Linked DNA regions of Homo sapiens. The protein of the gene in region 4 interacts with the protein of the main gene of each other region in a biochemical or structural test. Each region holds a gene or a part of one and is shown on either strand. Other genes may lie near its edges.

Region 1 (8,434 bases), on a different chromosome or scaffold from region 4:
AACTCATGGTCATTATTATTTCATCTGTAGCTGTCATTTGATCCTTAAATATTTCAGGATGTAAATCTAAGCGATAACTCATTTTATTTTTATCTTTAAATAAATTTATTTAAAATTTTTAAATGTTTTAAATTTATTTATTATTTATTTAGTTTTTTAAAGACGGGGTCTTACTATTTTGCCCAGGCGGGACTTGAACTCCTGGGCTCAAGCCATCCTCCTGCCTCAGTCTCCCAAGCAGCTGGTACTACAGGCACATGCCACTGTGCTCTATTTTATTTTATTTTATTTTTTTGAGACAGGCTCTCACTCTCTTGCCCAGACTGGACTGCAGTGGAACAATCTCGGCTCACTGCAACCTCTGCCTCCCGGGCTCAAGCAATTCTCTTACCTCATCCTCCTGAGTAGCTGGGGCTATGGGCGTGCACCACCACACCTGGCTAATTTTTGTATTTTTTGTAGAGACAAGGTTTCACCATGTTGGCCAGGCTGGTCTCAAACTCCTGACCTCAAGTGATCCACCTGCCTCAGCCTCCCAAAGTGCTGGGATTACAGGTGTGAGCCACTGCGCCCAGCCTATTTTTAAAATTGATAAATAAAAATTTTATATATTTATTATGTATAACATGTTGTCTTGAAATACATATATATTGTAGGATGGCTGAATTGAGCTCATAACGTACATTACTTCACATACTTATTTTTTTGTGTGTGGTGCGAACATTTAAAATCTACTGCCTTAGCAAGTTTCAAGAACACAATACATTGTAGGCCTGGGGCGGTGGCTCACATCTGTAATCCCAACGCTTTGGGAAGTCGAAGCGGAAGCATCACATGAGGTCAGAAGTTCGAGACGAGCCTGGCCAACATGGTGAAACCCCATCTCTACTAAAAATACAAAAATTAGCCATGTGTGGTGGCCCATGCCTGTGGTCCCAGCTACTCGGGAGGCTGAGGCAGGAGAATCACTTGAGCCCAGGAGGTAGAGGTTGCAGTGAGTGTGATTGCACCACTACATTCCAGCCTGTGCGACAGAGTGAGACTCTGTCTCAAAAATAAAATAAAATAAAATAAAATAAAATAATAAAAATAGAAGTATAGAGCTAGAACGATATATAACAGTATATAAAATATGCCATGTCTTGTGTAAAAAAGGGAGAAAATACAAGTATATATTTCTATAGTTAGATTATGTGTAAGCAAACTCTAGAAGGATATACAAGAAACAGCAGTGATGCATGTAGGGTTGAGCAGATAGGGACAAAAGTAGGAGGGAGACTTTTTTATTTTGTAACTTTTTTTTTTTTTGAGATGGAGTTTCGCTCTTGTTGCCCAGGCTGGAATGCAATGGTGCGATCTCGGCTCACCGCAACCTCTGCCTCCCAGGTTCAAGCAATTCTCCTACCTCAGCCTCCCGAGTAGCTGGGATTACAGGCATGGGCCACCACGCCTGGCTGATTTTTTTTGTATTTTTAGTAGAGACGGGGTTTCTCCATGTTGGTCAGGCTGGTCTTGAGCTCCTGACCTCAGGTGATCCGCCCACCTCGGCCTCCCAAAGTGCTGGGATTACAGGCGTGAGCCACTGCACCTGGCCATGTAACTTTTAATACATTTTTTTAAAAAATGTAACCATGTGAATGTATAACCTATTTTAAAAAATTAAATTTAAAAAAGTGATACGGGCCGGGCGTGGTGGCTCACACCTGTAATCCTAGCACTTTGGGAGGCTGAGGTGAGCGGATCACTTGAGGTCAGGAGTTCGAGACCAGCCTGGGCAACATGGCGAAACCCTGTCTCTACTAAAAATACAAAAATTAGCTGGGCATGATGGCGGGCACTTGTAATCCCAACTACTCAGGAGGCTGAGGCAGGATAATTGCCTGAAAACAAGAGGTGGAGGTTGCAGTGAGCCGAGATCATACCACTGCACTCTAGCCTGAGTGACAGAGCGAGACTCCGTCTCCAAAATAAAAAAAAAAAAAGTGATGCAAATGAGGCAGAAATAATTATCTTTTCAGGCCCAAATAACACCTCCTACATGAAGGCTTTTCTAATCTCAGCTATGTGTTTCTTTTTTTTCTTTTGGAACCCTATAGTACTTTCGTATATTTTCATATTTTTGTCTAATATTTCTTTATGTAAATTGCTTATCTTCTCTCCTTATCATATCTACCTTCAACTCCTCCTTACAATCTTACAGTCTCCTTCAGTGCTTAATGTTATCTTAAATATTTTGCTTTCTTATAGCCATCTGCACATAGTACATACTCAAATATTTACTAAGATGAAGAGGAAAATGTATTAGAATGAAACTGTTTTGGTTACTAGCAGATATATGCTTTTTGAATGCAAAATTGGAAATTTTCTTGCATTAGGATTGAAGACAATGATGGTGAATTCTTGTTAATAGAAGCTGCTGACTTTCTCCCTAAATGGCTGGATCCTGAAAATAGCACCAATAGGGTAAGTATACCCAAGTTTAGAAAATTTATAGAGATGAAATCATGCTGCATTACATTCATATGTACCTGCAGTTTGCCAGTGCCCACTGTGAAAATTGAAATGTACCGTTTGCAGGTATTTTTCTGCCATGGGGAATTGTGTATTATCCCTGCACCAAGAAAATCTGGAGCAGAATCTTGGTTACCCACCACACCCCCAACAATTCCACAAGCATTGAATATAATCACAGCACATTCAGAAAAAATACTTGCTTCAGAATCTATACGAGCTGCTGTGAATAGGCGCATCAGAGGGTAAGAAAAATATCACTTTCATTGCTAATTAAGGAACCTTTTGGTTTCGTGTAGTTCAGTCTTTCTTTGATTTTTGTTTGTTTTCCTTAAAGCTCTGTTGGAGTTGATCAGTCTTTCTTTGACTATAAAATACCTTTCACCTAGATTAATGCTAATTTTCATTTTGTCTTCATTCCTCTTTATGAAATAGACTAGTAAATTAAACTTACAGATTTTAAAATCAGGAAACAGATACATCTTTAAATTCCCATTCAGAAGTGTTACAATCTTGTCCCAATATTTTTGCATTTATTTACCTTAGATATTGTGGCTAAGTATTAGCTATATCCATGGGTAAAAAATTTGAGACCTTTAAAAATAGAAACTTCATGGGCCTGGAGCGATGGCTCACACCTGTAATCCCAGCACTTTGGGAGGCTGAGCAGGGGGCGGATCATGAGGTCAGGAGTTCAAGACCAGCCTGGCCAACATAGTGAAATCCCATCTCTACTAAAAATACAAAAACAAAATAGCAGGGCGTGGTGGCAGGTGCCTGTAATCTCAGCTACTTTGGAGGCTGAGGCAAGGAGAATCGCTTGAACCCGGGAGGCGGAGGTTGCAGTGAGCTGAGATCACGCCACTGCACTCCAGCCTGGGCGACAGTAGGAAACTCCATCTCAAAAAAAAAAAAAAAAAAAAAAGTAGAAACCTAATGGAGCACAAACAAGGTGCTCAGGTTTTTTCTGTTGTTCTGGGTCTGTATATGGGATTCTTTGACCTATGTCAGAATTCAGTTTCTGAATAAAACTTTAGCTTTTATTCAGAAAAGAAAGGTCTTAGCCTAATTACATATTCGTTCATCCATTCAAATTTGGGTGCCTATTAAATATTAAGCACCATTCAGGTATTAACAATATTAAAAATATTTTTGGCCGGGCGCGGTGGCTCACGCCTGTAATCCCAGCACTTTGGGAGGCCAGGGCGGGTGGATCACAAGGTCAAGAGATCGAGACCATCCTGACCAACATGGTGAAACCCCGTCTCTACTGAAAATACAAAAAATTAGCCGGGCGTGGTGGCAGGCCCCTGTAGTCCCAGCTGCTTGGGAGACTGAGCGCAGGAAAATCACTTGAACCTGGGAGGTGGAGGTTGCAGGGAGGTGGAGGTTACAGTGAGCCGAGGTTGCACCACTGCACTCCAGCCTGGCGACAGAGCGAGACTCCGTCTCAAAAATAATAATAAATAAAAAATAAAAATCTCTTTTAGCTTCAGCATACTTTGTACCATTCTTTTAGAAGAATAAACTCTGATTTTATCTTTATTCCAAAGTATAATAGGTATTTTTGTTTTGTTTTGTTTTTGAGATGGAGTTTTGCTCTTGTCGCCCAGGCTGGAGTGCAGTGGCGTGATCTCGGCTCACTGCAACCTCTGCCTCCCGGGTTCAAGCGATTCTCCTATGTCAGCCTCCCGAGTAGCTGGGACTACAGGCGTATGCCACCACGCCCAGCTAATTTTTTGTATTTTTAGTAGAGATGGGGTTTTACCGTGTTAGCCAGGATGGCCTCAATCTCCTGACCTCGTGATCCACCCGCCTCAGCCTCCCAAAGTTGTTTTGTTTTTATAGAGCTACAATAATCCCTTTTCTTTATTTTCCATTTCTTCCTACTTTTTTCTTTCCCTCTCTCGTATATTCTTAAGTGTATATACAGTATCTTTTTTCATCTCTCTTGTCACTCTCTACGTACTGCTCTTGATGAACAAAGAGATGTCAAAAAGAATGTGAATGGTATAAGAATTATAGGTATTTATATACTGTAAAATGAAAGTAATTATGTTACCTGTCCCAGGTACCCAGAAAAAATTCAGGCCTCACTTCATCGAGCACACTGCTTCCTTCCAGCTGGCATTGTGGCAGTGCTAAAGCAGCGCCCCAGATTGGTGGCTGCAGCAGTCCAGGCATTTTACCTACGAGACCCTATTGACCTGCGAGCTTGTCGTGTTTTCAAGACATTCTTGCCTGAAACACGAATAATGACATCGGTGAGATTTCTATCTTGGTCATTTAGTTTCTCTTACTGGAAACCGAGTTGAAACATTATTATTTTTTTCTTTTTACATTTCTCAGTGCTCAGTGAATGAAACATTATTTTAATTGTTCTCTAGAAAAAAAAGGAAATATTCTGTTTCTTCATAGCATGTTAATATAGATTGAATATTCCTTATCTGAAATGCTTGGGACTAGAAGTATTTCAGATTTCAGATTTATTTGGATTTTGGAATATTTGCATTAAACTTACTACTTGAGCATCCCAAATCTGAAAATTCTGAAATCTCAAAACTTTGAGCATATCGTTGGGACTCAAAAAGTTTTGGATTTTGGAACATTTTAGATTTCAGATATTTACATTTGGGATGCTCAAACTATACACGTTTTTTCTTTTCTTGCACCCAGTGAAGGAAATTTTCAAGAGACCTGCCTCCCCATTTTATACTCAATGTTTTATAGCTATTTTTGACCATATGTTTCTATTTCTATAATTATTTCCTTTTTTTTTTTTTTTTTTTTTTTTGAGACAGAGTCTCACTCTCTCACCCAGGCTGGAGTGTAGTGGAGCCATCTCAGCTCACTGCAACCTCTGCTTCCTGGGCTCAAGCGATTCTCCTGCCTCCCGAGTAGCTGGGATTACAGTCACCTCCCAACACGCCCAGCTGATTTTTTTATTTTTAGATGGTGTTTCGCCATGTTGGCCAGACTGGTCTCGAACTCCTGACCTCAAGTGATTCACCCACCTCAGCCTCCCAAAGTGCTGGGATTACAGGTGTGAGCCACCGCACCCAGCCTAATTATTTCCTTCTTAACAATAAAACATTTCATCTCTTCCAGAGAATTAAGAATTATTCTTGGCCGGGCATGGTGGCTCACACCTGTAATCCCAGCACTTTGGGTGGCCAAGGCAGGTGGATCACTTGAACCCACGTGTTTGAGACCAGACTGGGCAACATGGTGAACCCCATCGCTACAAAAAATAAAAAAATTAGCTAGGTGTGGTGGTGGGCGCCTGTAATCCCCGCTACTTCGGAGGCTGAGGTAGGAGGATTGCTTGACCCCAGGAGGTTTGGGAGGCCAAGGTGGGCAGATCACCTGAGGTCAGGAGTTTGAGACCAGCCTGGCCAGCATGGTGAAACCCTATCCCTGAGGCTTCAGTGAGCCATGATTGCTCACTGCACTCCAGTCTCTGCAACAGAGCAAGACCCTGTCTCAGAAATAGAAAAAATGAATTATCTTTATCTTCCAGCCATTTAATTGCTGTATAATGTAACTAATGATAAGAATTTTACTAGCGATTACTAAAAAGTAGGCAGTAGGGTAAAATTTTTTTTGCAACAGTGTCTTGCTCTGTTGCCCAGGCCGGAGTGCAGTGGAGCAATCTCAGCTCACTGCAACTTCCTCCACCTCCCGGGTTCAAGCAATTCTCCTGCTTCAGCCTCCCGAGTAGCTGGGATTAGAGGCGTGCGCCACCATGCCTGGCTTATTTTTGTATTTTTAGTAGAGATGGGGTTTCACCATGTTGGCCAGGCTGGTCTCAAACTCCTGACCTCAGATGATCTGCCCACCTTGGCCTCCCAAAGTGTTGGGATTACAGGCATGAACCACCATGCCTGGCCAGCAGTAGGGTAAATTTTATGGTATGTGAGTTGTATCTCAATAAAGCTGTTACTAAAAACAAGTAGGCAATGAATAGGTTGAATCTTCTTTGCATTTCATATGAATATGAAGCTTATAAATGGACTTCTCATTATATTTAACTGTGAAGTGTTATTCACAATCTTAATTTCAGGAAAAGACTCATGTATTTTGTGTCTTGATGCCCAGGTCACATTCACTAAATGTCTATATGCACAATTGGTGCAACAAAGGTTTGTGCCAGACCGGCGGAGTGGATACAGGCTGCCTCCTCCATCTGATCCCCAGTACCGAGCCCATGAATTGGGCATGAAATTGGTAATGTTGAACCAGAAAATGTTGTTTCCTTTCTTTATGTAAATGGACTCTTAATAGAATAGTGGCACAATATACAAAGTCCAGAAATACACCCTGTTTATGTAAGAATGCAGTAAAATGTGGCATTTCAAATTAGAATGAAAAAAATGGATTACTTAGTAAGTGATGATGGGACAAGTCTGAAGTCATCTGAAAAATTGAAGTTGATTCCCTAATACCTATACCAAAATAAATTCCAATTGGATCAAATATTTGAACATAAAAATTGAAACTATACAATTTGAAAAAAAACCAAGAACCTTTTATAATTTGAATAGGAAAGGCCTTTCTATGCATGACTTGAAACCAGAAGCTATAAAGGGAAGACTGATGAATTTGATTATGCAAAAATTAAGCATTTCTGCACGGGAAAGAAAAACTCCATAAATAAAGTCAAAAGCAAATCTGGAAAAAGTGTTATATTTGCAATCTAAATGAAAAAGAGCTGACTTCTCTAATACATAAAGTGTTCCTTTAAGTCAATATGAAAATGATAATACTAGCCAATTAATTTTAAAATGTTCAGAACTATGAACATAGTCCACAGAAAAGGAAATACAGGTGACCTTTAATTTAAACATATGAAAAATATTGAATCTTAACTCATAATAAAAGAAATGCACTTTAAAGCTACAAAATAGTGTTTTTCTTTTTTTTTTGTTTGCTTTCAAAAATGTTACAATCTAGACATTGATAGGAATGTCTAGATTTTCTTTTTTTTTTTATTATTATGCTTTAAGTTTTAGGGTACATGTGCACAACGTGCAGGTTTGTTACATACGTATACACGCGCCATGTTGGTGTGCTGCACCCATTAACTCGTCATTTATATTAGATATATCTCCTAATGCTGTCCCTCCCCCCTCCCCCCACCCCACAACAGGCCCCGGTGTGTGATGTTCGCCTTCCTGTGTCCGTGTGTTCTCATTGTTCAATTCCCCACCTATGAGTGAGAACATGCGGTGTTTGGTTTTTTGTCCTTGCAATAGTTTGCTGAGAGTGATGGTTTCCAGCTTCATCCATGTCCCTACAAAGGACATGAACTCATCATTTTTTATGGCTGCATAGTATTCCATGGTGTATATGTGCCACATTTTCTTAATCCAGTCTATCATTGTTGGACATTTGGGTTGGTTCCAAGTCTTTGCTATTGTGAATAGTGCCACAGTGAACATACGTGTGCATGTGTCTTTATAGCAGCATGATTTATAATCCTTTGGGCATATACCCAGTAATGGGATGGCTGGGTCAAATGGTATTTCTAGTTCTAGATCCCTGAGGAATCGCCACACTGACTTCCACAATGGTTGAACTAGTTTACAGTCCCACCAACAGTGTAAAAGTGTTCCTATTTCTCCACATCCTCTCCAGCACCTGTTGTTCTCTGACTTTTTAATGATCGCCATTCTAACTGGTGTGAGATTACCATCTCATTGTGGTTTTGATTTGCATTTCTCTGATGGCGAGTGATGATGAGCATTTTTTCATGTGTCTTTTGGCTGCATAAATGTCTTCTTTTGAGAAGTGTCTGTTCATGTCCTTTGCCCACTTGTTGATGGGGTTGTTTGTTTTTTTCTTGTAAATTTGTTTAAGTTCTTTGTAGATTCTGGATATTAGCCCTTTGTTAGATAAGTAGATTGCAAAAATTTTCTCCCAT
Region 2 (8,434 bases), about 100 Mb from region 4:
GTCCTCTTCCCACAGCATCCCACATGGGTTCCCCAGGTGCAGGGAAGCAGGGGACGCAGGGCTTTCCAACTGCTTAGTCCACGGCTCAAAGGAGTGGGGGAGGGGTTTACCTGAATCCATGACAGCTCCCTTTTAATTTGTTTTGTTGTGTTTCTTACTCATTTAAATGAACTTCTGGGCATTAAAAGAAAGAACCTCAAGGCTGGGCGCGGTGGCTTACACCTATAATCCCAGCACTCTGGTAGGCCGAGGCGGGCGGATTGGTTAAGGCCAGGAGTTCCAGACCAGCTTGGCCAACACAGCAAAACCCTGTCTCTACTAAAAATAGAAAAGTTGGAGCCGGGCACGGTGGCTCACCCCTGTAATCCCAGCACTTTGGGAGGCAAGGCGGGCAGATCACGAGGTCAGGAGATCGAGACCATCCTGGCTAACACGGTGAAACCCCGTTTCTACTAAAAATACAAAAAAAAAATTAGCCCGGCATGGTGGCGCATGCCTGTAGTCCCAGCTACTCGGGAGGCTGAGGCAGGAGAATGGCTTGAACCCAGGAGGCAGAGCTTGCAGTGAGCTGAGATCGCGCCACTGCACTCCAGCCTGGGCGACAGAGCAAGACTCTGTCTCAAAAAAAAAAAAAAAAAGTACAAAAATTAGTGGGGTGTGGTGGCACATGCCTATAATCCCAGCTACTTGGGAGGCTGAGGCAGGAGAATAGAATCACTTTAACCTGGGAGGCGGAGGTTGTAGTGAGCAGATATTGCACGACTGCATTCCAGTCTGGGCGACAGAGTGAGACACTCTCAAAAGAAAAAAAAATAAGACAGCTTTGGCTGCAATAAGAAAGAAAGAAGCTCAAGAAATTGCAGACTGCTGTAACATCGGCACTTGACAGGAGGCACCTGAGGTCAGAGGGCAGGTGCCCAGCCTAGCATACAAACAAAAGCCAGGGTTGGGACTAGAGTTGTTTGGTTTCCTAGCCTGGCATTCTACCCTCTGACCGGTTCCATCCTGCCAAGCCTTTTAAAAAAGAAGAGTGATGGACTAACAGTCCAAAACCTGACCTTAGGGTGACCTCAAGCATTAAGTGCTCCTGAAGCCACTTCCTTTAAGCCTTCCAATGATATCAAGACCCTTGCATGACTGAACCTCCAGACACCCCTGGTTGCCCTCGAGGCAGAAGGCACTCGCCAGTCTTCAAAGTAGAACTGAGAGGAGGGGGCTGGTGCATTTAGCAGCAGCAGCAGCAGCGAGCTGAGGCACCCTGCCAGAGGCTGCTCACACATTCTGATTAACCACCATGAACAAGCTTTTGGGGAGCGATTACTCCCTTTTCACAGATGAGAAATGAGAGAGAGGGAAAAGCGCAGAACCAGGGGACTCTAGGCTTCAGGGAAGTTTCCAATTGGGGGTCTCTGATGCCAAATTCTATGGCTTTCCTGCTTAGGTCCTCCCCCTTGTTTCCGGGTACTGGTCCCTGAAGGAAACAAGGTTTCTACCTGGTGCTTTCTATGTAGGTCAAATTCCATAAAAGCAACTCTCTGAGCCTTGCCCACTCTGAGCTGAGACAGCCCGGGCACAGGCTCAGAAACCTTTGGGCCACTTTGCTGCATTTGCTATAAGCCAAAGTTGGCAAACTATGGCAGCTAAGAATGAGTTTTACATTTTTAAGTAGCTGGGGAGAAAAAAAAGACAATGACTAATATTTTGTGATATGTAAGAATTATATTAAATTCACATTTCAGTGACCATGAATAAAGTTTTATTGGAACACAGCCACACTCATTTGTCTACAGCTGCTTTTGTACTGCAACAGCAAAGCTGAGTGGCAGGCCGAGAACTACATGTCCAACAAAGCTGACAATATTTACGCTCTATCTGGCCCTTTAGAAAAAAGTTGATCGGCCTCTGCTTTAAGCCCCACGTCCCCTGAGCTAGCTGCCCAGCATTCTCAAAGCCTTCCAGGCAAAACCACATCCTCCCTAAATAACCGAAAAGGTATGCATCCTATTATGGAATGTTAAATGTAAATGGCTCCTTGGCCATGTGTGGGTGTGGGGCCAGGATCTGGACCCTGGGGAAACTGACACCCCTGAGAAGATACACATTTGGTGGTGAGATGGGCAATAATTCAACTAAGAGAACATTAATTTGGTAAGATTGGGCACATGCAAAGTTCACTGTCACTCTCAGCAGACACATTTAAGTCCCAGCTCCTCCACTTGTGTGACCTTAAAAAAGTCCTTTCCTGGCTGGGCATGGTGGCTCACGCCTGTAATTCCAGCACTTTGGGAGGCTGAGGTGGGCGGATCACCTGAGGTCAGGAGTTCAAGACCAGCCTGACCAACATGGTGAAACCCCGTCTCTACTAAAAATACGAAAAATTAGCTGGGCGTGGGGGGCGCGCGCCTGTAATCCCAACTACTCGGGAGGCTGAGGCAGGAGAATCACTTGAACCCGGGAGGCAGAGGTTGCAGTGAGCCGAGATCGCGCCATTGCACTCCAGCTTGGGCAACAAGAGTGAAACTCCGTCTCAAAAAAAAGTCTCTTCCTCTAAGCTTCAGTTAATTCTCCATAAGAGAGGATCTTCTATGAATAAATGATATTGCTAAGGAAAGATTATGCCTGAATGCATGCTCCCAACACTCTTCTAGTCAATGGAAATTCAGCGATAAAACTATACCAAATCCCTGCCTATGGAACTTGATAGGTTAGTTGAAGGCTGGGGCAGAAAATAAATACATGTAATACATCAGGTGGTGAGTGGTATGAAGAAGGTGATGGGGCTGCTATTTCTTAATCATGGTGGGACATGCCTGTAATGAAGTATTATGCAGCTATTGGAAAGAATGAAACACATCTGTGTTTCACATAACATGTATGTGTTATGAAGAGTACCAGGGTAGATTGTTCAGGGGGGAAAAAAAGCAATAGGATGTACATATTGTGTAAGGAACAGGGAGTTAGTGAACTTGTATAGTGGCACTTGGTTGTATGTGCAGAGAGAAACACTGCCAGTATTTACCTCTAAGGGTTGGTTTGGTGAACAGAATGGGTTGCAAAGAACTATGCAGAAAGTGGGATCCAACTACACAAATATTCTATTTATAGGCATGTATCTACACATGCACAAAGAGAAGTCTTTAGGGTAAACACCAAACTGTCAAAACTAGAAGACACTCTTTCATTTATTATGCTTCTCTGTAGTTGGCTCTGTAACTTCTGAAGCTTTTTTTTAATCCAATTTTTTTTCCAGTCACATCTAAGAACTTTATTGGACACAGCTTGGATGCCAGGACCTGGTAGGCCCCACACACTGCCTGCTAGGCCCTGGACTGTCCAGGGCTGGAGTGAGGGTAGTTCATGCAAGGAAGTGTCAGACCACATGGTAACCCCACAATGCAACACTGTGGTTAGAGACTTTATATAGCTGGGAGATGGAGGGCTGCCCCACAGATGTATGAACAGGTCCAATCTTCCATAAATAAACCTACAGAAGAGAGAAAATTACACTGGAATTCATCCTTAGACGCAGAGTACCCTAGATGGGAGGGGGCATCCTCACTGGTCAGGGGGCCAGGATGGGTGATGAGGGGGCCCAGATATCCACAGCATGGGGCAGGCAGGGGCAAGGATGGGGTCAACAGATGATGGGCATTTGCACTAGGACACTGCATTCACAAGACCAACTACTGAAGGGATATGTGTCTCAGGCTGTTCATTCTGGAATAAGCAGGGGTGATCTTTATATCACATTCTGTGGCTGGTGGGCTCAAAGGCTACTTTGTGGAGAGAATGAGACCATGCAGTGAAAATGAGGATCAGGATCAAGCCCACAAATAGCCCGGGCTTCTAGGCAGCACTGTGTCCCCCACAGTGCTGATGACATAGCTGGCTGCCGGGCCACTCAGGCCCACACTCAGCCTAGCGCTTGGCTGGAGGAGATTCCCGTAGAGGCTGATGCAGTCGATCAGCGAGTTGGGGATAAGGACTTCCATCACCAGGTTGTAGATGGTGATGATGCCAGCCATGACCGCTGGGACACTGGACTTCAGGATCAGCTCCAGCCGCATAAGGGCCAGGGCCACGAGGCAGTGCTGCTCTAGGCTGTGCCACAGACAGCACACAGGGCTGTGGGATGGAGGCAAGGCGAGCCCAGAGCAGAATCTGTTTACCTGGGGCCAGAACCCTCTGGGAATAGCTTCTGCACAGCTGTGAGGGCCACACCCAAGTTATCACACGCAGCAGGGAGCTGAAGGCAGCCCCCACCTAGGGGCAGGAAGTCCTCAAGAAGAACTGCCACAGCTGGGTGATCAAGGAGCCCAGTGTAGCTGTTTGTTTCTTTCCTTGAACTGGGCCCTCCAGCCCAAGAGAGTCCACCTCTTCCTCCAGCAGAGGTGCTTATGGCTAGCTGGCCTGTCTGGGCTCCCACTGTGCTATGAAACCCAATCTGTGCTGCTCAGCACTCCCCAAGCCTGCTGCACAGACCACATGCTCCCCTGGAGCCTCAGTGCCGCTGACCCAGACAGCTAGCTCTCATCCCCAGTACAGCTGAGGACACAAGCTCCAACAAGAAGTGTGGCTGGCCTAAGGTCCAATGGTAGAGCTGTTTCTGATGGAGCCGTTTCCTCCCCACTCCCAAATGCCAGGGCAGGGGGAGATAAACTGGGCTAGGAGACATAGGCAGACTTCCTGTCCAGCAGAGGCCTCAGTAGCCAAAGGCTCCATCAGCTGAGGCCTGGCAAGAGCTCTCTCCCATTCCAGGGTGCAGAAGCCTCAGGGAGGCAAGTCAGTGTGGTCACAAAGAGAGGAGATGCTGTCTTCTTTCTGCCCAGGTTCAAGGCCTGGGAGCCCTGCTCAGTTACTGCAAAACCCTAATGTTTATGCATCAGCTACTGCCAGGCCTGGTGGCTGGAAGACAGAGCCTCAGGCTCCAGTCCACCCCTCCCGTGGAGAGAGGTAACAATTGGAGGCTTGTTAGGGTAGCCAGGGCTGGGCCTGCAGGCCTGGACACAGCCTCTCTGAGCCCATGAATCTGGTCAGGAGGCCTCCCAGCCTCCGCCATCATGGGGACGTCGGTTACCAGACTGCAGACTGAGTGAGCGGCTTTATCACCTTTATGCCCAGGAGTGAGGTGGGGGAAGGGGTGAGGTTGCAGGCCCCAAGCCAACACTGCACACTTTCCTCTTTGTTCCAGGCCTCCCCAGCTTTGCCAGTCTTGGGGAAGCAGGGAGCTGGATGGCTGTACCCTTGGTACTTGAGCAGAGCTCTGGGCCGACACCCCGTGACCAGGAGGCACTGGGCAAAGCTGAGCTCCTTGAAGTCACAAGCTGATTACGGGGGATTTGAGGCTGGCCCAGCTCCGGGGCAAATAGGGTCGAATCCCTGGATGGCTCGGTACTAGACAAGGATCATCTTGGGGCTGTTTACATCATTTGTACACCCAGACTGGCCTTACAAAGGGTCTTTCCACTTAAAATAGCCACTTCTCTAATTTAGGGCACGGGGCCAGTCTCACCACATCCACTGGGGGTAGCCAAGTCTCTATTTACTGAGAAGGAAACCAAGGCTCCAAGGAAAGCCACTTCTTCAAGGTCAGAGTTTAGTGGGAACATCTAGTGTTTTGTTTCCATTCACAGTAGAGTTTCAGTTGTCAAGTTACGTCTAATCCAACTTTCAGGCTCCTATGGCATGGCAAGTCCTGTGTCTGGGGATTCCTGCTCATTTGGGGTGGGTGGAGGATGGCACAGACAGGCATGTGGAGAAGAAAGCATCTTTAAAAAAAAAACACAGCTAGGCCAGGCGCGGTGGCTCACACCTGTAATCCCAGCACTTTGGGAGGCCGAGGTGGGCGGATCACCTGAGGTCTGGAGTTCGAGACCAGCTTGACCAACATGAAGAAACCCCATCTCTACTAAAAAAAAATACAAAAAAATTAGCCGGGCATGGTGGCACATGCCTGTAATCCCAGCTACTCGGGAGGCTGAGGCAGGAGAACCACTAGAACCTGGGAGGCGAAGGTTGTGGTGAGCTGAGATTGTGTCATGGCACTCCAGCCTGGGCAACAAGAGCGAAACTCCGTCTCAAAAATCAAAACAAAACACAGCTCCATAGAACGCCTCAAATCTTTTGTGATAGCCTTATCTCGGACAAATCTCTTCCCTTCTCTGGACTCAATTTCCCCATTTGTCAAATGGAGGGCTGGGCCATGGCTGGAAGGCCCCTCCTGCTCTGGGTTCCTTCCACCCTCTAATGTCATCCTGGAAAGGCTGGCAGCATGTCTTGGGGTGGGAGGCTCAGTGTGTGATCTTGGCAAAGTCATTTTTTATTGGACCATGAGGTCACTGTAACTTGTATCACAGGGCAGTTGTGAGGACCCTTGGAGTTAATGGACATGAATGTCCCTTTCAAACTATCCCAAGGGTGACCCAAATTCAGAAAGGTAGGCAGGAAGCCTAAGGCAAAAAAGCAAAGCAAAGAAGCCCAAAGCAGCGCAGGGCACTCACATGAGCTGACCCTCCCTGGCCTGGCACTCTCACCCATGTGCCATGCCTACTCACTTCCCAACAAGCCCCTACTAGGAAGAATGGGTTAGTGGGAGCTTTAATGATTTACCTGACTTAATACCCATGGGCCAGCATCCTGACTCCCCAAAAGCTCATACTGCCAGAATGCCAGCTTTTGGATAAAGGCCAAGGCCCAGGTACAAGTCACCCACAGCCCAGGTAAGGCATCATGGGAGTCCAAGGAAGCAAGAAATATTTATGGAGCATCTATGGGGACAGAGACGTACATTCTTTTCTGAATTCCTAGACACTGTAATGATGAAAACTGGGCAACTAAGCTAAGCTGGGATTCAAAACCACATATGCAAACATCTATGTTTGGCCGGGTGCGGTAGCTCACGCCTGTAATCCCAACACTTTGGGAGGCTGAAGTGGGCGGATCACCTGAGCTCAAGAGTTCGAGACCAGCCTGGGCAACATGGCGAAACCCTGTCTCTACCAAAAATACAAAAATTTAGCTGGGCACGGTGACGCATGTCTGTGGTTCCAGCTACTCAAGAGGCTGAGGTGACAGAATCGCTTGAGCCTGGGAGGTAGAGGTTGCAGTAAGCCAAGATACTTGCCTGGGTGACAGAGTGAGACCTCGTCTCAAAAAAAGACAAAAAACAAAAAACTATGCTGTCTGCACCACAAAGGGGCTGAGAAAGCCTGCAGATTTCTGATTTTTCCTTTTCTGGAAGGTAGAGACTGGCCAGAAAAGTGATGAGTGATGGGCATAGGCAAGGCTAGTTACAAGTTCTTCACGAAGGGTGGGGTGAGACATCTGGGGCAGGGCTCACCCTTGCGTGCTGCCCAGGAGAGATCGTGGGCGAACCCCTGGCTTGTAGGCAAGGTGATTCCATCTGTCCCCTACTTCCTATTCAGCTAAGCTCATTACTGTGAGTTACAGAGGAGCACAATGGAACACGGGGAAGTTAGTTAAGTCAGTTCCCATTTCCTAGGAGACAAAGAGGAACATAGCAGAACCAAGGCTTTGGAGCCAGACACACCTGGTTTTCAGATCTTGTGTGAAAGGCAAGCGATATGACCTCCCCAGGCCTCTAACATCATGCACAAAAAGGCTGTGCTTGCAGGTCAAATCAGCAGTCTCCAAAGGGAAGGGCTTTATTCCAGAATGTATATGGAATGATCTACACAAGATTTGGAGGGGAAAATGACTATAACTGCTGTCTTGTATCTATCTGTCTTTTGAAATTTCTATTTTATGAAGGCATATCATCTGTTAGTATCAAACTGCATGTGCATGAATTTAAAAATACAGCCGGGCGTGGTGGCTCACGCCTGTAATCCCAGGCCTGTAATCCCAGCACTTTGGGAGGCCGAGGCGGGCAGATCATCTGAGGTCGGGAGTTCGAGACCAGCCTGACCAACATGGAGAAACCCCGTCTCTACTAAAACTACAAAAAAAAAAAAAAAAAAAAAAAAAACATTAGCTGGGTGTGGTGGCACATGCCTGTAATTCCAGCTACTCGGGAGGCTGAGGCAGAAGAAACGCTTGAACCCGGGAGGCAGAGGTTGCAGGGAGTTGAGATCGCGCCATTGCACTCCAGCCTGGGCAACAAAAGCGAAACTCCGTCTCAAAAAATAAATAAATAAAAATAAAAAAATAAAAATACAGATACACCACTGTGAAAGAGGTGTTCCAACATTAATTACTGACGAGGTAGACAGTGGAAAACTTGGAGAACACTCCATGAAGAGCACCCACCTGCTACACTATTTAGAACCAGCTGGCACAAGGGGCCACCTTTGAAGATAGGCAAACTCTCTCCCTTCTGCCCAAAATTCAAGAAATGTTGTGGTGAAGAGAGACAGTGGAGACAGAAATGAAATTAAATCTGATGGGCCTGGGTTCAAATCCAGTTCAACCACTT
Region 3 (5,891 bases), on a different chromosome or scaffold from region 4:
GATTTTTTTTTCTATTATATAATTAAATGTGTCAACATTTAGAAAATCCTTATAATTTGATGAGCCATTATTTTCAAATGATCAGTGAATGCTGCAACGAATGTTACAAAATGACGCATGGGTAAAAGTTATTTTCAAAGTGCAAGACAGGCCAGGCACGGTGGCTCACACCTGTAATCCCAGCACTTTGGAAGGCCGAGGTGGGAGGATCGCTTGAGCTCAGGAGTTCGAGACCAGCCTGGGCAACATGGTGAAACCCCATCTCTACAAAAAATACAAAAATTAGCCGGGTGTGGTGGCACACACCTGTAGTCCCAGCTACTCTGGAGGCTGAGGTGGGAGGATCACTGGAGCCGGGGAAGTCAAGGCTGCAGTGATCCATGATCACACCACTGCACTCCAGTCTGGGTGACACAGTAAGACCCTGTCTCAAAAAAAACAAAAAAAAGATCAAAAAGTGCAAGAAGAGGAAACAGTAGATTTTGTATAACAAAGTACAAAGTGTTCTTTGACTTGATTTCAAACCCATATTGTGCATTCCCTTGTCAAATTTAGTATCAAAGAATAATATCCATAATTACCTGACAAGATGAGTAATCTCCATTTCTAACTATTTATCTGTGTGGGGCTATAGATTAAATGTACAACTAGATATCAAAATCCATATGTTTTCTATTACACCAGATATTTAAAAGATTTCCAAAACTAAAACAAAATCACTCTTTCCACTATTTTTTTTGGAAGTAGTTGGGTTTTTCCCATTAAAATGTTATGTTTATTTTCATATCAAAGTGAATTAATATTTTTTAAACTTCTGTTTTAACTTCTAATCCAGTAAATATCAGTAGCTATAATTCATATAAATAAAAGCTCTTTGCAGTTGGAAATCCATTTTTTTTTTCCCAAGATAGAGTCTTGCTGTGTTACCTATGTTAGAGTGCAGTGGCACAGACACAACTCACTGCAGCCTCAACCTCCTGGGTTCAAGCAATCCTCCTGCCATAGCCTCCTCAGTAGCTGGGACCACCAGTGCACGCCACTATGCCTGGCTAATTTTTTAATTTTTTGTAGGGACAAAGTTTTGCTGTGTTGTCCCAGGTGGGTCTTAAACTCTGGGCTCAAGCTGTCCTGCCTTGGCCTCTGAAAGTGCTGGGATTATAGGCATGAGCCACTGCTCCCAGCCAAGGTTGACAGTATTTTTAAGAGTGAAAAGGAGTCCTGTGACCAAAATTTGAAGACCTCTGCCTTCAATAAAAGTGATAGATCCATATGTATACACACATGCGCGCGCGTGTGTGTGTGTATTGAGAGAGAGATTTTTGAGTCAAAGGGAGAATTAAAATAGATTTCAAATTTTGTGAAAGGAAAGTAATTACCACCCACTGATTTCTGTTTTCTCAAAGTATAAGGAGAAGTCACTGGCTAAGAGTGAAGAAAGGAAAAACTTTTGAGAGAAAGAAGGAATTGGGAGAATTGTTAGAGAATAGGCAAGTATTCATTAGAGGAACACGGCTAAGATTGCTAGGCAAAATTGGATTGCTCACTTGGATTAGAGCATGAAACAAGTTGACAGCAAAGAGCATAAGCTTCCTTTCCCCACCACAGCCCCCTCCCCACCCATAGCAACTCGAAAGCAGCAAAAGTTTTTGAAGAGTGGCATAAACTGGTATGTCTTTTTAGCAAAAAGTAAAAAAGAAACAAAACAAATAGACCCAAAGAATTCTCTGATGGTCCAGGTAAGAGATGATGGGGAAGCATATACAAAGGGATGTAGTGGCAGTAGAAATGATGAGGAGGAGCCTGGGCAACATGACAAAACTTCGTCTCTACAAAAAAAAATACAAAAGTTAGCTGGCCATGGTGGCATGCGCCTGTACTCCCAGCCACTCCAGGGACTGAGGTGGGAGGAGGGAGGATTGCTTCAGCCTGGGAGGTCGAGGTCGCAGTGAGCCGAGACAGTAGCCTAGGCGACACAGCCAGACCCTGTCTCCAAATAAATAATCAGGAGAAAAAATGGAATATTTGGTAGATAGAATGACAGAATTTGGCAAAGGCTATATGTGAAAGATGTAAGAGAACAGAAAGTGACTGGTTGTCTTGTATAGGAAGTATTAAAAAATAATTTTTTTTTCTGACCTTGTTATCATACTCTACCTTGAAGTATAAAGGGGAGGGCAGTATATGGTCTGCTTAGTTGCTGCTATTAATATCTTTAACTTCATTTAAAATACAAAGAATACAGTCTTAGAACAGCACTGTTTTATTTAGATGCCTTGTTTCAAAGGCTCTTTCCTGACTCTGACATGGGAGGGTCAAGGGCACATGGAAAGTGGTGACAGTGGTAAGAAGGCACCTGGATAATCTCTAGAAACCTTCCACATGGGAAAATGAAGGTACAGAAGGGTTCTGACTTACTCAGGGCTATCTCACTAGTCACTGCTACTGTAGGGACCAAAACCCTGAACACCCGAATCCTAATCTAGCTACTCAGTGCTGTACCTCACAAAACGAAATGTTATTCCACCTTTGTAAACTGAAAAATAATAGTTATTTTAAGCATTTTTTAGTATTTTAAAATTTTTATCAGTTAATACCAGAATGGAATTGAGTATGGCAAGATTGAAAAAGTGTCATTTTAGAAGAGTTTATATATGTGGTTAGATTATTTGAAAAGACAAAGAAACATATATATTTGTTAATTGACTGTCTCTACCCCAGAATGTAAATTCCATGAAGACAGGGATTTTAGTTTTCTTCACTGTATCACTAGCTTATCAGTTATATAAAAAATTCTCGGTAAATGACTGATGAATGAGTGACTGAGTGGATGAAAGAAATGGACTCTTATCCTAAGAGAAGTTAAGAGGACTCATGACACATGTAACAGGAATAGTAAAAAGAAAATGGATTTTTTTTTTTTTTTAAATTTGTCTTTATCCATATTGCTACACTTATTATTTGTAATTCCATTTTCCTCTTGGAGATGTTAAAATAGTTTTTATATGTAAGTCTTAAATTTAGATTACTCTAAATACTTCTGGCAAAATTTTAACATATATAGTATACATATATCCATTCAGCATTTCTATGTGCTTTGAAAAGTATTCTATTAGATTTTTTTCATTTTATTGAAAACATCTGATTTTGTTTTTGTTTCTGTTCAGTTTTAATCGCTTGGATCTACCACCATATAAGAGTTATGAACAACTAAAGGAAAAACTTCTTTTTGCAATAGAAGAGACAGAGGGATTTGGACAAGAATGAATGTGGCTTCTTATTTTGGAGGAGCTCTTGCATTTAAATACCCCAGCCAAGAAAAATTGCACAGATAGTGTATATAAGCTGTTCATTCTGTACAGTGAATTTTCCGAACCTCTCAAAGTATGTTTTCCGTTCTTCCACAGAAATATGCAAAACAGTTCATCCTTTTCTACTTTATTTATTGTTCCCTTGAAATGACTGACCAGGAAAAAGATCATCCTTAAATTTTGAAGCAAGTGAGAGACTTTATTAAAAATACATATATATCTATATAAACATATATGATAGTGGCTCTAGTTTTATAGAGCTCCAAGTGTATTAAACATGACAGCCATTCATTCATAAAGATCTGGATTTGCTTTACCTTGTTAATATTATCTAGGGGAAAAAGTGCAAATTGCTCCATGTTCTTCTCTCCCTTATGTAACATCTCCTGAGGGTGTTTAGTTGCATGGCTGTTCAGAAAGGTATTAAGGGCTTAGGCCAAATCTTACTTTGAGTATGTTAAAAAAAAAAAAATGCTGCTGGCTTTTCTGAAGACAGGTGCTTGAACTTGTCAGTTTGTTTTAAATAAATACAATAGTTGAAAATTTTTCTCTGTTACATCAGTAATATTGTTAAAGTAATGGATAGAACCATAACTTACACATGAAAGTCATATACTAGATCCAATACTATTTAGTTTATTATCGAAATTGGAAGGATTCATTGAGCAGCATAGAAGTTTGTTTACATGTTACTTTGAGATGCTAGGTATTTGTGGAATTAAAAAGAATCAGGCTCTTTTGTACTTTGTTTTTAAATCTGTGATGCTTTTCAAATTTAATTCATAATAAATTGATGCAATTTCATACTTAGGAACATACAAAAGGTAATGTAAACTCTGCCACTTTTTTGTGTTCAAAATTTTGGTTTTTATGAAGCCAGATGGATTGAAGAGTTACATAAGCATTTGAATGCTCTAATATAAGGCTAATGATTTTCTGTTAGTGTTTGAATATCTTCATTCCTCTCAAATTCATAACAGTTCTATTTAACTGAATTAAATAACCATATGAAAAATCTTTTGGGTCTCCCCCTTTTTACACAGATAATTATTTTTGTCATAACACTTTTTAATTGTTTTTCATCATAGGGGCCTTTGCTGAACTACAAAAATGTGTAACAAATTAAAATCTGATGTGAATGATATTAATGCTACTTTTAGCAAACTGGGCTTCCTAATACAAAATTTTAAATTTCCATTTGTATCATGCTTTTAATATGCACTGTAAATTTCATTAACTTAAACATTTTTTAATAGCCATGGAACTGACTTCTTAAAATCTGTTGCCTATAAATATTTCACTGCTAAGTACATACAGAAAAACAGTAATTATTGTTTTGCCAAAATTTTATTTTTCTACATATTGAGAGTGTGTTCTCCATTTTATTCAGAATTCATAGTAAAGACGAAAGAAAGGCAGAGATCTGCTTGGTTGAATAGACTCCTTTTCCAAATCCTTATTATGAACACTCTGGTAATTTTCAAGCCTAAAGAATTAAAAAAAAAATTCTAATGTATGTGACAGGTTATGTGATAGAGGGAAACTGGCCTTCAAAAAGGACTGCGTATACCATAAAAGAGTTAAGTATTAGAATTACAAATGGTACCACTGCTGTATAAATTTTGCCATGACAGAAGTTATTGAATATCATTCATTGTAGGTATGATTTAGCAGATTTGACTGAAGAAGGCAGCTTTCCAGTTCGTTTTCAGGGTGCTGGTCTCCCTCAAGTAAGAAATTACGATGCACTAGGTGAGGCTACACAGAACCCTACAAGAGACAAAACCAGCTTTGTTTTGGAGAATTCATCAGGGTCTTCCACTTTTCATACCCAATTATAGATATCCAAGACCTACAGGCAGAGCTCTTGATTTATCTACCCAGTAGCAGTCAGAAAAACTGTAGAAATATGGTCCCCCACTCACCTTCTCCCCTTCTTCCCTTCCCATTCCTGTTCTGTGCTGGACTAACCGAAAGAAATTAGGAGTGCAAGACTCTCTGTGCCCAAAACACAGTTCATGAGGAAACAGACAAGAGGGAGGCTCAGAGACAGGTTTATATTGCTACTTCATTTTGGTGACTCCCCCACCCCCACCACCAGTAAATGGCCCAGGGAATAGCTCACAGGCCCAATACAATTCTGTCTGTTAGATCAGTTAAGCAACACAATTCTATCTGTTAGATCAGTTTAGTTGTTTGTCTTCCAGGGAAAGCAGCTTACCAGTGTTTTTTTTGTTTGTTTGTCCCGCCCCCCCCATGTACTTCCCAAGTAGTTGAAAATGAAAAGGTTAACAAAACCTTTTCCCCTGATGACTTCTGTTAACTACCTAGCTCTTCCTACCCTGACAACTAAATAGGATGGTATGTGTCAACTGTATTTATTGCCATGCAGCTTTGCTTTTGGTAAATATGACCCTGACTGGTAAGTTGCATCTGGACTGGGAAATCTCCAGATACACGACAGAAAGCCACAGCTTTGGGCATACCTGAGTGGAAAACTCTTGTAACTGTATGTCCTTTAAGGAGGACCGTGAGCTGTCACCTGGGGAGATACCATTTCATAGATTGCTGTTAGAAGACCGT
Region 4 (8,773 bases):
AAAGCTTACGCCAGGAGGCCATTTTTACCTGACCCGAAACTATCGAAAAGGCCTCAATTTTCAAGGAGATCTGAGAAAATGGATGGGCCTGAGTTTTTCTAGTTATTTTTAAACCCATCCAACAAACACCCCTGTATCACAACATGGGCGCTGGCTGAGGATGAGTCCGCATCCTTTAAGGCCCAGGAGATTGCCTGCTGACCACCTCCTACATTAGGAAGTCAGAGGCTAAGGTGGACCCACACTCCATTGCAGAGACTGTTGAGTCTCTGAAAAAGTGAGTGTCCAGGAAGAGAGACAAAAAGAAACAAGTAGGTAAAGCTGCTTCTTTTCTTCCACATGCTCACTGCACATTGTTGTTGAGGATGCAGGGATCCACCTAAAGAAAGAAACAGACTATTTCAGTTCAGGTAAGAACAAAAAGAACAAACCAGTTTAGCAATCCGTCTAAGTCAACTTCTTATAGAAAGCTTAGGACAAATTTAACAGTAAAGATGACAATCCTCACCTCAGTATAAGTCGGTGGTGGCATGAACTTGAACTCAGGGGCATACATAAAGATAGGGCTGTCTTGAGAGCCATCCATGTCATCTAGCAGAGGAGTGGTTGGGCTCTCCAATCGGTGATCTTCAGGAATGACATCCATATAGCAGGGAGGAGCTAGAAAAGAAAATATGGCCACATAAGAATCCTGCCCAAGAAATGCTGGACCATCACAATTTTACAAACCCAGGTAGACCAGAAACAAAGAAAAGACATTAGGTCTGGCTCACCTTCTGGGGTATCAGGGATGTTCAGATCTACCCAACTCATCTCAGAGCTGGTTCGGCTGGCCATGCTGGATGTTCTGCTGCTTAGACCTGATCTGCTGCCAATTACCAGGGGCAGGTCAAGGATGACCTTCTTGGATCCAGGAACGCTAACATAGATCTAGAAAGGAAGATGGCAGTTTATTACACCAGAGGTCTGGAGAAACAAGACAGCTGTGGTAACAGATGAACAATTTCTCTGCTGAAGCCACCCTGCATCTACCCACCAGTAAGGAATATTCAACTCGAAGGATGTTGCAGCCCAGGATAGAAGGCCTGATCTTCTGAACCCGAAGGCTCTTGCCACGCCATGATGCGCATGTCCCTGAGATAATATGATTGCCTCTGACTGATGACAACTTCTGAGTCAGCACCTTGGTCTGGCCATTGGCAAGGTAAGTGTGGCGGGCCACAATGGCAGCTTTGGGGACCACAATTCGGGAACATGTATTCTCAAAGTCAGCATGGATGGAAATCTCATCACCTAGCAATGAGAAAGATGAAAACTTACTGATACTCAGTATAGTTAATGACACTTCCTCTACCCCAGTCCCATGCCCTTGCCCCTAAACCCAGTTCCTGTTTTAACTGCCATAAGCACTAGGATTTTACCTTCACAGAATCCTTTTCTGTCAATTCGAGCAGAGACAGACACCCGCCCATCAGGAATGAACATGCAGGAAACTTTCTTTTCTTTTTTAGCAGACACAGGTGCCTATATAGAAGGGGATAAAAAGGTGTTTTGAGATGCTTCAATCTAATGCCCAAGACGTCTGATTTATCATCCTCATGACCCAGGAGAATAGAATCTTTAAAATGGATCTCACCATTAAATCAGGGGTATTGACATCCACCAGATCCACTACTTCAAAGTTTTTCTTTGTCTCTTGAGTTGGCTGGCTCGGGCGGTCAAGAAAAGCCTTCACCCAGTAGTCTACACACCCATATTTTCCTTTGAAGGATGTTCCCAGAGGCCTGTGTCAAGAAAATGAAAATTTTAAAACGCTCTCCAAGAACAGTAAGTGATCAAAGGAGGGCAAGATATTTTAGACAGAAAAGTTCAAAGATGCATTTAGCTGATATTTACCCCTGAGGAAGCTCAAAGCCGAACTTGTACTCATATTTGTTTCCAGGTCTCATGATCACCATCTCATTCTCACCTGAAGGGAAAGAAAATCGAGTAGCCATTAGGCTTGCTGTTACACTTAAAATGCATCTGTGTGATAAGGAATGCTTGGGTGGCATGCAAGGTATTGAAGTACCCCCAATTTCATCCCATATATATATTTTTTAATCCATCCCATATTGTTCTTAAAGAGAAATTCTGATGTATTTTGTCGGGCAGCAAGTTGCCAAGCCCTGCAATACTGAAAGATTCACCCAGGACAGTTCTCTACTAACATCTCAAATAGGAAGTAGACAAAGAATAAGCAACTTATGCACACATAAGACTTTAACTACCCGAGGCAACGCCCCTCAGGATCCCCTTTAGGACACAGCACCATAAAAAATTGTACAAATCACCCTTTTTTTTGGGGGGGGAGGAGAATGTCTGCAAATTAAAACAGAAAAAAGGAAGCAACAACACGTAATTCAAACCACTCAAACTGAGCAACTTAAAACATTTCGTACAGGTTTTGTGTATTCAATTCTCTTCTCTAATCAGCTTTCACCCTCCAACAATGAATTGGGCCGCTTACCTGTTGGCTGGTCTTCCAGAAGAAGCGTGTCTTCATAGCGCAGGTACTCCGAAGTCTGTTTGCACTGCTGGGATCCCTGCATCCAAAGCACTTTAGCCACTCCGCAAGCCAGGATCCTAACGGCTTTGACACGAGTAACTTCACACACCTCCACTATCACCCGGCCAGCCACCTTCTCGCCACTGCCGTACACCTTTTCAGGGTCGTTAAAGACCACCTCAAAAGACTTGATCTTCTTGAACATCACCATGATGGAACTGAGTTGGTTTTAAGAGTTAGAAATGACGGTGGAAGAAAAAAAAAGCTCCAAATCGAGGAAACCCCTTTGCAAAAAATTATTTCACTTTAAGGAATTAAGGTATTCTTAAGCAGTTTGAGCTTAAAAATAAAATAAGATTTAAACAAATGAATATTAACTACTAGGTTTTCGAAAAGGCGCCTAAAAAATATACGCCGCTGGTTACACTAAGCTAATTCAGAGAAAAAGCCTTCTTTCCCCCAATTGCTGGAGAAAAGATCCGATCTCCACAAGCACTCCTTTGGAGAAAAAGAGGGGTTAGTTTCAAGCAGGAGGCGGAAACGTCTCTATATAGTAGCCCGGGCCAGAAGAGCCACGCGAGCGCTGGCCCGGAGGCTCGTGCTGCCCTCGTGCACATCCCTCCCATTGGCTGCCCGGTCCTTGTTTACCAGGAGCCCGACCAATCAGTGAGATCGCTGTGGCGCGTGGACACGGTGTGCTCCTGGCTGGGAAAATGGTTGTTGCGCTCTGGAGCGGCGCAGGGAGGGGGGAAGGAGAGGAAGGAGAGGAAGGAGGGGAAGGAGGGGGCTGTTGAGCGTCTTCTCCCGGGTCCAGTGGAAGGAGGATCCCACTGACCCTAAAACCTAGCCAGGGCGACAGGCCATCGGAGGGCGGGTGTGGACGTTTCTGGTCTGAGAGCGGTGTTTTGAGGTAAAAGGAAAATGTGCTTATGAGGGAATTTCATGCCTAGTCTTAGCCAGTGCAGTTACTTTAGAGCCTGTCGTTATTCCTGGCTCATAAATAGCAAGTGTGTGAAAATCCCATAGCTCCAAGAATACTTTCAGGTTTGGGGCTGTGGAGCGCAGAATGCTTGGTGTTACTGTTCAGGAACAGCCCTTTGTCCTTCTCTTGCCCCGCATCCCTATTAAGTATAAAAAACACCACCGTCTCTGAGGGAAAGGAGAACTTTCAGGCCTCATTGTGTGTGTAGGACCGATGTCTTCTCCTTCCCGTTCCAATCCCTTGGGGCTAGGGCTGGGGGCTGCGTGCCTGTGCTGTTCGTCACCCACCCCCAGCTTGTACCCTCTCTTCTGTTCTCTCTGTTCTGTGGAACGGAAATAGGAGGGGCGTGTTTACATCCTGTTGCTTATCCTGTCATCTCTTCAATTTCTACCTGCAAAGTTGGGGAACACTTTGTCTGTGTTCCCCATTTACCTCATTACCTCTTTAGTGAGGTGTGTCCAGGCGCTCATTATCTCCCACTTCCTACCTGCTTCTGGAGGAAAAGGAAAAGCGGGAAAAAAAGGATGCTTCACTCTTTTCACTTTTTTCCAGTTATGTTCACTCTTTCTTGTCTCCATCCCCTCTTCCAACTCACTAAATCAAATGTACATCCATAAATCTGGTTAAAAGTGAGAAAGTCCTCTTGTTTATATCCAAATTTTCAGTGGAGAGATGGCCACACACCTGTTTGAAGGAACAATTTTAAAAACTATTTTCAAAGGTTTTTCCCTAAACGGTTTAGAAAACAGTAAGAAGGAAAAGAGAAGAAAGATCGGTCAACAGAGCACTATAAATTCAAGCCAGAAGAGACCCTACCCTCTCTCTTCATTCTTTGTTGGTTTCGTTTGGCCAGCTGTCAGATGGATTTTCCCCTGCTGGCTGTGAGATGCTTTAGGAGCTGAGTACTGAGAACTTACTCTTAAATGTAATAGGAAAAACCTGTATGCAAAAGTGCAGGGATTCTTCCTCCTTTTATTTGATTCATAGACCCTTCCTATATCTGTGCTGGGGTATCAGAAGATTATTATTTAATTCCTTGTGCTGGAAAGAGGAAGATAATGTCCCAAGATTGAGATGGGGAGGTAATTAAGAAGCATTCAAGTATATTGAAACCCTACCCAATCAGCAAAAAAAAAACAATATTCATTGCTGTTAAAGAGCCTTCTTCCTTCCTCAGACAGCCTAGCTGGATTGACACTCTAAGGCTAACGAGAGTTACAACTCAACCCCAATATTAAGCAAGCTCAAGAATAGGCATCATGAGTCTCTTCGAAAACACACACATGCATTAAACCCCAGGAACATGTTGATCCTTAGGGTGTGTTTGAGGCGGCACCCTGTTCTAGAAACTTAACCAGCTAGGCTTGAGGTGTTTTCAGTTGGTTAACAATATTGATTGAGTTACTGGGAGCAGAGGAGGTGGAACTCTGACTGAAGTAATTTTTTTTTTAAGGTGGAATCTTGCTCTGTTGCCTAGGCTGGAGTGCAGTGGCCTGACCCCAGCTCACTGCAACCTCTGCCTCCTGGGTTAGAGCGATTCTCCGCCTCAGCCTCCTGAGTACCTGGCATTACAGGCATGCATCACCACGCCCAGCTAATTTTTGTATTTTTAGTAGAGATGGGGTTTCACCATGTTGCCCAAGATGGTCTTGAACTCCTCCTGACCTCAGGTGATCCACCCGCCTTGGCCTCCCAAAGTGCTGGGATTACAGGCGTGAGCCACCGTGCCTGGCCTGACTGAAGTAATTTTAAAAGTTCAAAATTGTGGCTTCTGGGAGAACGTTTAGTTTGATGGGTATGAAAGTGTAACTATCAAACATCAAAATGCTGACAAATATATGAATCAATATTGTTAACTACATAGTCAATATTGTTAAATATTGTTAAATCTTAACTACATACATTTTGAGGGAATAGGAAAGATGGTGGCTAGTGATGGATCAGGGTGGTGGTAATATGGGACATCTTAAGACATCCAACTCTCAACCAGGTTGGAATGCAGTGTCACTTGGCTCACTGAAACCTCCACATCCCAGGCTCAAGTGATTCTCCCACCTCAGCCTCCCGAGTAGCCGGGACTACAGATGTGCTCCACCACGCCTAGGTAATTTTTGTATTTTTGGTAGAGATGGGGTTTCACCATGTTGGCCAGGCTGGTCTCAAACTCCTGCTCAAGCAGTCCGCCTACCTGGCCTCCCAAAGTGCTGGGATTATAGGCACCCTTTTCCCTTTCAATTTATTTGATATTTATGTGGGCACATCTCTGAAGTACTGAATTGCTGAGTTTTAAAAAATCCTATGACAATTCTCTCGTTCTAAGTTTCTCTTCTGGGCTCTGGTTTCCTTGTATCTTCCCATTTGCAGAGCTCACTACAGACTACGTTGCTCTGTGTTATGCCTGGGTTCCTTTAAATGCCAAAAAATTATTTAGCTTTGGCAGCAGCTGCTGCCTACCAGGCCTGTAGCCAAGGCATGTTCTGAAGTGGAGTCCTCCTGGACACGGTTGTTTACGACCTTTCACCTTGTAACCTGGTATTCTGATAAAAACCTGCCCCGATTCTCCTTTCCCAGTTCTTGGGTCTAAGAAGAAAGAAATTTTGTAAACTCTTGTCCTAAAATCAGGGTATAAAAACACTTGTGAGGTTTGGGAAAAGGGGTGGGCCAAGGAGGAACAGCAAAGTAGGGCACAGTCAAAGAGTTTTGCAAGTTGGATCATCTTTATCTGCCCCTTCTCTACCCTCTTCAGTCCCAGTGCCAACAGGAAACCAAGTGGTGATTGTTGTTTGTTTGCTTTACTGCAGGTGACAGAATAAAGCCAGCAGTTTCAGGGAGGGAAGTGCCCTCAGCACTTTGTTGCCAGTCAGAGACAAGACACTGATTGCATTTCTCTTTTCTTTAACCTCTGGCCTGACAAACATTTAGAACATGAAGACTCATAGTTCTTAATGCAGAACAAAGCCCTTTCTTGGTCCTTTTAATCACTTCTCTCACCTCTACTCTGTAAACTTCCCTTTTACCCTTACCCATTTTCCTTTCTCTCTCTCTTTTTTTTTCCACATAGGGTCTCACTCTCAACCAGGTTGGAATGCAGTGTCACTTGGCTCACTGAAACCTCCGCATCCCAGGCTCAAGTGATTCTCCCACCTCAGCCTCCCGAGTAGCTGGGACTACAGATGTGCTCCACCACGCCTAGGTAATTTTTGTATTTTTGGTAGAGATGGGGTTTCACCATGTTGGCCAGGCTGGTCTCAAACTCCTGCTCAAGCAGTCCGCCTACCTCGGCCTCCCAAAGTGCTGGGATTATAGGCACCCTTTTCCCTTTCAATTTTTTCCCTAAGGAATTTAGAGGCAAATTAAGAGTTTGAAGACTGCCCCAAGTCATAGATCAATAAGAATAAATTAACAATTGTAAGCCAGGTGTGGTGGCTCATGCCTGTAATCCCAGCACTTTGGGAGGCTGAAATGGGAAGATCACTTGAGGCCAGGAATTCAAGAAGATCACCCTGGGCATTGTAGTGAGACCCCATCTCTCTTTAAAAAAAAAAAAAAAGGCTGGGCGCGGTGGCTCACGCCTGTAATCCCAGCACTTTGGGAGGCTGAGGCAGGCAAATCACGAGGTCAGGAGATTGAGACCATCCTGGCTAACACAGTGAAACCCCGTCTCTACTAAAAATACAAAAAATTAGCCGGGTGTGGTGGCAGGCGCCTATAGTCCCAGCTACTCGGGAGGCTGAGGCAGGAGAATGGCGTGAACCTGGGAGGTGGAGCTTGCAGTGAGCCGAGATCTCGCCACTGCACTCCAGCCTGGGCGACAAAGTGAGACTCCATCTCAAAAAAAAAAAAAGAATTGTATAGCATGTTAGAGTTCCAAGTGACTTTTTAAGTAATTGCCATTTATTGAGCACCTATAATGAACCAAGTCTTTTATATAATTATGTCAGTGATAATTATCTGTCATCTGTCATGTTGTTCTAGAAAGTATTTGAGGTTGGCCGGGCGCGGTGGCTCACGCTTGTAATCCCAGCACTTTGGGAGGCCGAGGCGGGCGGATCACGAGGTCAGGAGATCGAGACCATCCTGGCTAACACGGTGAAACCCCGTCTCTACTAAAAATACAAAAAAAATTAGCCGGGCGTGATGGTGGGCGCCTGTAGTTCCAGTTACTCGGGAGGCTGAGGCAGGAGAATGGCGTGAACCCGGGAGGCGGAGTTTGCAGTGAGCCGAGATTGCGCCACTGCACTCCCGCCTGGGCGACAGAGCGAGACTCCGTCTCAAAAAAAAAAAAAAAGAAAGTATTTGAGGTTAGATTGTTTCATTTAATTCTCTCAATAACCTTGTGACTCGGTGTTGGTTCAGTCAGGCTCAGAAGTGAAGTAATTTGCCTGAGGTCACAGATTTTGTAAGTAGAGCAAGATCTTGAACCCGCCCATGTCTGTCTAAAAGTATGTACTATAAAAATGTGTTGTCTTGGCTCTCAGTGCTTTGATACACAGTATCTTGTTTGATTCTCACAATAGTCTAATAAAGGATTCAGGGCAAGACTCAGAGAATTTTAGAGTTAAATGGGACTGTAGCAGTCTTTTATTTTTTTAAAACCAGTTCTTATTTTGGTTAAGTGACTTGACCTGGGACATAAGCTAGTATCTGGTGGAGCCACTCTCCAAACCCAGGATTCTCTTTATTATCTATTTGTTTATTTTGTTGTTGCCCAGACTGGAGTACAGTGGCACAAGCATAGCTCAGTAGCGGGAACTACTAGGAACACACACCATACTCAGCTAATTTTTTTTTTTGAGAAAGGGTCTTACTTCATCACCAGGCTGGAGTGCAGTGACATGACCATGTCTCACTGTAACCTCAACCTCCAGGGCTGAGGTGATCCTTCCACCTTGGCCTCTTGAGTCAGCTGGGACTACAGGCACATGCCGGGCTAATTTTCATATATTTTGGTAGAGATGGAGTCTTGCCATGTTGCCTGGGCTGGTCTGGAACACCTGGGCTCAAGCTATCCACCCACCTTGGCCTCCCAAAGTGCTGGAATTATAGATATGAGCCACCATGTCCAATCTTGTTTGTTAATTTAGTTTTAACTTTTAAAAATATCTCATCTGGAGGCCCACATTTCGTGTTTACTGAGATCAATTTTTCTACCATGATAAGCAAAGGATAGAGATCTCAGTATTGTCCAATGTCATGGCAAGATGGGGAGAGGGGCTGAATTAACTTGTTTGGAGGTATTGTAG

The links.
Region 1: the proteins of TXNIP (region 4) and ECD form a complex in vitro, tested with the Homo sapiens proteins (one study listed by BioGRID).
Region 2: the proteins of TXNIP (region 4) and SLC2A1 form a complex in vitro, tested with the Homo sapiens proteins (2 studies listed by BioGRID).
Region 3: the proteins of TXNIP (region 4) and WWP1 form a complex in vitro, tested with the Homo sapiens proteins (one study listed by BioGRID).

The regions. Positions count from the first base shown.
Region 1 is NC_000010.11:73,150,597-73,159,030, reverse strand, and holds part of ECD (protein ecdysoneless homolog), read left to right. Parts: intron 1-2,375; coding exon 2,376-2,463; intron 2,464-2,577; coding exon 2,578-2,756; intron 2,757-4,582; coding exon 4,583-4,775; intron 4,776-6,609; coding exon 6,610-6,738; intron 6,739-7,325; exon of another isoform or gene 7,326-8,434. UniProt on the Homo sapiens protein: Regulator of p53/TP53 stability and function. Inhibits MDM2-mediated degradation of p53/TP53 possibly by cooperating in part with TXNIP. May be involved transcriptional regulation. In vitro has intrinsic transactivation activity enhanced by EP300.
Region 2 is NC_000001.11:42,948,447-42,956,880, forward strand, and holds part of SLC2A1 (solute carrier family 2, facilitated glucose transporter member 1), read right to left. Parts: intron 1-8,434. UniProt on the Homo sapiens protein: Facilitative glucose transporter, which is responsible for constitutive or basal glucose uptake. Has a very broad substrate specificity; can transport a wide range of aldoses including both pentoses and hexoses.
Region 3 is NC_000008.11:86,463,630-86,469,520, forward strand, and holds the end of WWP1 (NEDD4-like E3 ubiquitin-protein ligase WWP1), read left to right. Parts: intron 1-3,164; coding exon 3,165-3,264; 3' UTR 3,265-4,874; downstream 4,875-5,891. Other genes in the region: RMDN1 (regulator of microtubule dynamics protein 1), read right to left, coding at 5,047-5,078. UniProt on the Homo sapiens protein: E3 ubiquitin-protein ligase which accepts ubiquitin from an E2 ubiquitin-conjugating enzyme in the form of a thioester and then directly transfers the ubiquitin to targeted substrates.
Region 4 is NC_000001.11:145,993,508-146,002,280, forward strand, and holds the start of TXNIP (thioredoxin-interacting protein), read right to left. Parts: upstream 3,073-8,773; 5' UTR 2,760-3,072; coding exon 2,510-2,759; intron 2,238-2,509; exon of another isoform or gene 2,055-2,237; coding exon of another isoform or gene 1,970-2,054; coding exon 1,897-1,969; intron 1,785-1,896; coding exon 1,637-1,784; intron 1,525-1,636; coding exon 1,422-1,524; intron 1,294-1,421; coding exon 1,037-1,293; intron 931-1,036; coding exon 774-930; intron 661-773; coding exon 509-660; intron 380-508; coding exon 344-379; 3' UTR 1-343. UniProt on the Homo sapiens protein: May act as an oxidative stress mediator by inhibiting thioredoxin activity or by limiting its bioavailability.